2 linked regions of the Homo sapiens genome follow. The protein of the gene in region 2 interacts with the protein of the main gene of each other region in a biochemical or structural test. Each region holds a gene or a part of one and is shown on either strand. Other genes may lie near its edges.

The links. Proteins that work in one complex are often made in the same cells at the same time.
Region 1: the proteins of OXSR1 (region 2) and WNK2 interact in a test that uses a peptide from one of them, tested with the Homo sapiens proteins (one large-scale study listed by BioGRID and IntAct).

What each region holds. Positions count from the first base shown.
Region 1 is NC_000009.12:93,313,139-93,316,638, forward strand, and holds part of WNK2 (serine/threonine-protein kinase WNK2), read left to right. Parts: intron 1-3,500. UniProt on the Homo sapiens protein: Serine/threonine-protein kinase component of the WNK2-SPAK/OSR1 kinase cascade, which plays an important role in the regulation of electrolyte homeostasis, cell signaling, survival, and proliferation.
Region 2 is NC_000003.12:38,168,537-38,172,036, reverse strand, and holds part of OXSR1 (serine/threonine-protein kinase OSR1), read right to left. Parts: intron 1-3,500. UniProt on the Homo sapiens protein: Effector serine/threonine-protein kinase component of the WNK-SPAK/OSR1 kinase cascade, which is involved in various processes, such as ion transport, response to hypertonic stress and blood pressure.

The DNA.
Region 1 (3,500 bases), on a different chromosome or scaffold from region 2:
TTCTTCGAGCACATTTAAGACAGTCGGTTTAAAGCCTTTGTTTACTAAGTCCAATGTCTAGGCTTCCTTGGGCATGTTTTTGTCAGTTAAATATTTTCCTTTGAATGAGTCATACCTTCCTGTTTTATTTGCTTTAGATTTTAGGTCACTAAATTTTTCTTTGTGTCTAAACTGCTGTTAAACCTATCCATTCAGTTTTTAATTTGGGTTATTGTGTTTTTCAGTTGAATTTTTTTTTAACCGTATCTCCTGTATCTTTAAAAAAAAAAAAAAGTTTCTGACTCTTTACCAAAATTCTCTATCTTGTATCTCCTTCACATAATATTTTTTAGTTTTTGTTTGCTCTTTGTCCTAGTTTTTCTTTATATTGCCTTGTCTTTTCTTGTGACTTTTTAAATATTCTGTGTAGGACATTGTAGTTGAAATTGTATTTGCAAAAAGAATTTGAGGTCTAGTAATAGGTTTCTCATTATTGTTTAATTTGCCTTAGAGCAAATTAAACAATTTTCATATTCTTATATTTTCATATTCTTATCAGCCGTCTTTTAAAAAGTGCCTGGTCAAGGATAGTGACCATTTAAAAGTTGATTTGTTTAACTTTTTATTATTGATTTGTGGGAGTTCATCATATATCTTTTGTCATATACAAGGGGGCTTCCAAAAGTTCACAGAAAAATGGAATTAAAAGATAAAAGTAAGAAATATATGGCTGGCCATGGTAGCTCACACCTGTAATCCCAGCACTTAGGGAGGCTGAGGCAGGTGGATTGATTGAGTCCAGGAGTTCAAGACCAGCCTTTGCAATATGGCAAAACCTCATCTCTACAAAAAATATAAAAATTAGCTGGGCTGCTGGGTGCAGTGGCTCACGCTTGTAATCCCAGCACTTTGGGAGGCTGAGGCGGGTGGATCACCTGAGGTCAGGAGTTCAAGACTAGCCTGGCCAACATGGTGAAACCCTGTCTCTACTAAAAGTACAAAAAAAAAAAAAAAATTAGCCCAGCATGGTGGTGGGCTTCTGTAATCCCAGCTACTCAGGAGGCTGAGGCAGGAGAATCGCTTGAACCTGGGAGGCAGAGGTTGCAGTGAGCCGAGATTGTGCCATTGCACTCCAGCCTGGGCGACAAGAGCAAAAGTCCGTCTCAAATAAAAATAAAAAAACAGCTGGGCATGGTGGTGCATACCTATAGTTACAGCTACTAAGGAGGCTGAGGTGAGAGGATCGCTTGAGCCCAGGAGGTCAAGGCTGCAGTGAGCCGAGATAGTGCCACTGCACTCCAGCCTGGCGACAGAGCAAGACCCTGTCTGAAAAAAAAAAAACAGCTGGGCATGGTGGCACATACCTATAGTTACAGCTACTAAAGAAGAAATACACGCTTTTTTCTTAACACAAGCACCATCAAGTTCAAGACACTTATAAGCAATGATGCCAGCCATTTATAAGCAATGATGCCAGCCATTTATAAGCAATGATGCCAGCCATTTAGTCCCTCCCTAAAGACCTAATGGTCCTGGGAATTTAACCATGGCCATGGAGTCTTTTTTACATTATTAATTGACAAAAAATGGGTGCCCTTTACAGATGTTTCAAAATTAGGAAGCAAAAAGAAGTCAGAGGGAGCCAAATCAGGACTGTAGGGTAGATGCCTGATGATTTCCCATGGAAACTCTTGCAAAATCACCCTTCTTTGGTGAGAGGAACGAGCAGGAGCATTGTCGTGATGGAGATGGACTCTCTGGGGAGGCTTTCCCGGGGGGGGTTTTGCTGAAGCTTTGGCTAACATTCCCTAAACATTCTCATACTAAGCAGATGTTACATTCCTTGTTACCCCTCCAGAAAGTCAGCAAGCAGAATGCCTTAAGCATCCCAAAAGCTGTTGCCACAATGTGCTCTTGACTGGCCCACTTTTGCTCTGATGGGACCACTTCCAGCCCTCAGCACCATTGCCTTGACTGCACTTGGTCTTCAGGACCATACCAGGAAAGCCACGTTTCATGTCGCTATAGTTCAAAGAGAGCTTCAGGATCTCCATCCCACTTGTTCAAAGTTACCACTGACAGCTCTGCTCTTCTCTGCGCCTGATGTGGGCGCAATGGGTTTGGCACCCATTGAGTGGAAAGTCTGCTCAACTTTCATTTTTCTGTCAGAATTGTGTAAGCTCAACCTACTGAGCTGTCTGTGGTGTTGGCCACTATTTCTGCTGTTAACCACCCGTCCTCTGCACTTACGGCTCAGACCAGATGAGTGTTTTCCTCACAAAGTGATGCGGATGGCCTGCCGCTGTGGGCTCCGTCTTCAGCATGGTCTCATCCCTTCTTAAAACAAGTCAACCATTTGTAAACTGCTATTTTCTTTGGGGACATGGACCCTGTAAACTTTTCAGAAAGCATCAGTGATCTCACCATTCTTCCACCCAAGCTTCACCATACATGTGATGTTGGTTCTTGCTTGGCAGAATTCACGTTATTGTGATAGGGGCTCTTTTCAAACTGAAGTCTTCTCCTTCTTAGTGCCTCAGACTACCTCCTCTTCAGACATGCTGCAATAAGTTAGTACAAGTTTATTTGGGTACAAAGATTTTTTTTGAAAGTCATGCATAGTTTTTTCATGGTATGTCTTTTCCATGAACTTTTTGAAGACCCCTTGTGTGTGTGTGTGTGTGTGTGTGTGTGTGTGTGTGTGTGTATATAATGGATATAGTCTACCAATCTGTGGTTTGTGTTTTCACTTTCTTAATGGTGAACATGAAATGGTAAAAATTTTAATTTTTTTTTTCCTAAAAGCTTTGCAGCTTTAGCTATTGCTTTAGATCCCATGAGCCATCTCAAATGAACTCTTGAGTATATTTTGATGCAGAGGTAAATCTGTTTTTTTCCTCTCTGCATATCTGATCGTTCCAGCCCCTTCCTCTCCATATTGAATTGCACTGAATTGAGCAGACATTCGTCAAGTGGTCGTCTGTGTGTAGGTCCATTTCTGAATTTGCTATTTTGTTTGCTTTAGCAATTCCCTTATCATTGTGGCAACACCACACTCTCTTCATGACTGAAGTTTTCTAGGAAGTTTAATCTTTGCTCAGGAAAGACTTTCAGTGTTGATCTTCTTCAAGAAGTTCTTGATTTTTTTCAGGTCGTTAATATTTCCATATGTTTTAGGAACAGCCTGTCACTTTCTGCAGGCTAGCCCACTGGGATTTCGGCTGGGAGTGGATTCAGTCTGTTGATTATCTGGGTGAGGTTTGACATATGAACAACATGAGCGTTCCTGTGAATGTAGTGTCCGTTTACTGGCATCTTTTTTGTTTCTCTGCAGTGTAAAGATGTTATACCTCTTTCATTAAATTTATCCCTAGGTAGCTGATGTTTTGGAATGCTATTATAAATGTTATTTTTCTTTAAATCTCCTTTTCCAGCTTCCTGTTGCTAGAATATAAAACTATGGTTGACTTTCGTACCCCATATCCTGCAATTGTGCTAAATTTGCTATTAGTTCTAGAAAT
Region 2 (3,500 bases):
ACTCAATCTATATAACGGCCCCAGTGACATAGGTACTATTCTCCCCACTATACAGACAAAAAGCTGACACGGAAACTAATCATATAATTTGTCTAAGATCACATAACTAGTAAGAGGCAATGTCAGGATTTGAATCTGGGTCAGTCTAACCCCAAAGCCCAAATTTTTACAGCTGCTTCAACACATGCCAAATACAGTATAACACATGCTCAGAAATTCTAATCTAAGACTAAGGGCTCAAAAATACTGAAAGATCAATGATTAATTGTGAGAATGATACTAACATCTTTTACACATAATCATACTTAAAGAACTTCAAATCTTGCCAAAGCATGCTTAAGGTGATACAATTCTTTAAAAAAAAAAAAAAGTCCTTTGAATTTTCAATCTATAGGCTTTTAATATGTTCCTAAGAGGAGATTCTGTTCTCTGTAGGATTTTACCAGAAAGACGAAGAACAAAACAGAATGTGAGAAACAATCCCATAAATAGTATACTGCTGAGAAGCAAATGTGAAAAAAATTACAGTTCAAATAAACATGTTACAGTTCAAATAAATGTACGTGTTTTGATGGAGATGACACCATTACACTGATTTCTCTAGAATACAATCCTTTGAAAACAAAATTTAAATGATCCCAAACCCTTTTTTCTAGATTTTAATCATGTGTTTCCTGAAAAAGTTGAGTGTAATCTGAAATCATAAAGATTCATTTTGAAGACTATAGCTTATTATAAAATACTATGTAACAAACATTTTGGTATGGAAGCAAAGTTAGAATAAGAATACAATGCTTTACTGAAACTTGCTACTTATACTAGGCTGTAGCTCAAAGAAAAAAAATTTTTTTTCTCCCTGTTGGGAAAATGGAGAGAGGCTGTCAGGAGCAGACTGGAAGGACGTGACAGGTGTGGAACATCCATCAGATTTTTTTCACTCTAAGGATAGATACTTCCCTTGGCCAGGCACAGTGCTTCATACCTGTAAACCCCAACACTTTAGGAGGCTAAGGTGGGAGGATCACTTGAGCCCAGAAGTAGAGACCAGCCTGGACAACATATGAGACCCTGTCTCTACAAAAAAATAAAACAATGAGGCGGGCATGGTGGCACATGCCTGTAGTCCAGCTACTGGGGAGGACGAGGCAAGAGGATCACTCGAGCCAGGAGTTCATACAGTGAGACAGTGAGCTGTGATTACATTCCAGCCTGGGTGACAGAGTGAGACCCTTCTCAGAAAAAAGCAGGGGAGATCATTCCCTTAATCTGTGAGACAATGACCCCCATCTTCCAGTTTATATCCAAGAACGAATCAATGTAGATACAGGAACAAGGATCCCGAATTAGGCTACAGGAGACACAGATGCCAGTATTGGCTCTGCCTCTAATTAGCTACATGGCTTTAAGCAGTCATGTTACCTTTCTGTCTCTGTGTCTTCAACTGTAAAACAAGGTGGTTCACCTTACTTCACACCATACACAAAAATTAACTCAGTATGTATCAGAGGCTTAAATGCAAGAGCTAAAACTAACACTTAAAAAAAAACAGGAAAAAAAAATCTTCACAATGTTGGGTTAGTAAAGATTTCTTAGATACAACACCAAAAGCAAAATCAATAAAAGAAAAAAATGATAAACATCAAAATTCAAAACTTTTGTACTTTAAAAGACTCCATTAAGAAAATGAAAGAGGCCAGGCGCGGGGGCTCACACCTGTAACCCCAACACTTTGGGAGGCCGAGGCAGGCAGATCATCTGAGGTAAGGAGTTCGAGACCAGCCTGGCCAACATGGTGAAACCCAGTCTCTACTAAAAATACAAAAACTTAGCCTGGTGTGGTGGCACGCATGTGTAATCCCACCTACTTGGGAGGCTGAGACAGGAGAATTGCTTGAACCCAGGAAGCGGAGGTTGCAGTGAGCCAAGATCATGCCACTGCACTCCAGCCTGGGCGACAGAGTAAGACTCCAACTCAAAAAAAAATAATAATAATAAAATTAAAGAAGGCTAAGCGCAGTGGCTCACGCCTGTAATCCTAGCACTCTGGAAGGCTGAGGCAGGCAGATCGCTTGAGCGATCAGGAATTTGAGACCATCCTGGGAAATGTGGCGAAACCCAGTTTCTACAAAAAACACAAAAATTAGCCAAACGTGGTGGCATGTACCTGTAGTCCCAGCTACCTGGGAGGCAGGGGTGGGAGGATCACTTGAGCCCAGGAGGTGGAGTGAGCCCTGATCATGACACTGCACTCCACCCTAGGTGACAGAGTAAGACTGTCTCAAAAAAAAAGAAAGAAAATGAGAAGAAAAAAAAAACTACAGACAGGAAAATATTTAAATTAAATCATATATCAGATGAACGACGCATACCCAGAATGAATACACATACAAACACACATACACACACTTCTATAACTCAAAAAAAAAACGAACAGCCAGGCGCAGTGGCTCACCCCTGTAATCCCAGCACTTTGGGAGGCCAAGCAGGCGGATCACCTGAGGTCAGGAGTTTGAGACCAGCCTGCCCAATATGGTGAAACCCCATCATTACTAAAAACACAAAAATTAGCTGGGCATGGTGGCAGGCACCTATAACCCCAGCTACTCAGGAGGCTGAGGCAGGAGAGTTGCTTGAACTCAAGAGACAGAGGTTGCAGTGAGCCGAGATGGCACCACTGCACCCCAGCCTGGGCAACAGAGCAAGACTCCATCTCAAAACAAACAAACAAACAAAAAAAAAAACAACCCAATGGGCAGTCCAAGTGGACAAAAGATTTGAATAGATATTTCACCAAAGAAGATCCATGAAAGTCTAATAAATAAGGACATGAAAGGATGTTCATCATCATTAGTCATTAGGGCAATGCAAATCAAAACCACAATGAGATACCACTTCATAGTCACTAGGATGGTTACACGCAAAAAGACAACAAATTTAGAGAAACAAGAACTCTTATAATTACTAGTAGGAACATAAAATGGTACAGTTACTTTGAAAATCAGTTTGGCAGTTTCTTAAACAGTTGAATTTGTGATATAACCCAGCAATTCCACTCCTGGGTATACATCCAAGAAAAATGAAACATATTCATGGGGTGACTTGATGTGAATACTCAAAGCAGCCTTGTTCCAAACAGCCAAAAAGCAGAAACAATCCAATGCCCATTAACTGGTATCCAATAAAAAGGAACCATGTACTACATGGCAGATGGATGAACCTCAAAAAGCATTATGGAAAGTAAAAGAAGCCAAACACAAAGGACCACATATTATATGATTACATTTACATAAAATGTCCAGAAAGGACAAATCTATAGAGACAGAAAGTATATTTGTGATTGCCTGGGGCTGGGGGTGGGAACAGGGAGTAACTGCAAATGGACATGAGGCATCTTTCTGGAATGATGGAAATGTTCTAAAATTGGATTGTGGTGATGACTGAACAATTATGTAAATTTACTAAAAGATTATTGAATTGTACATTTTAATCAGGTAAATCTT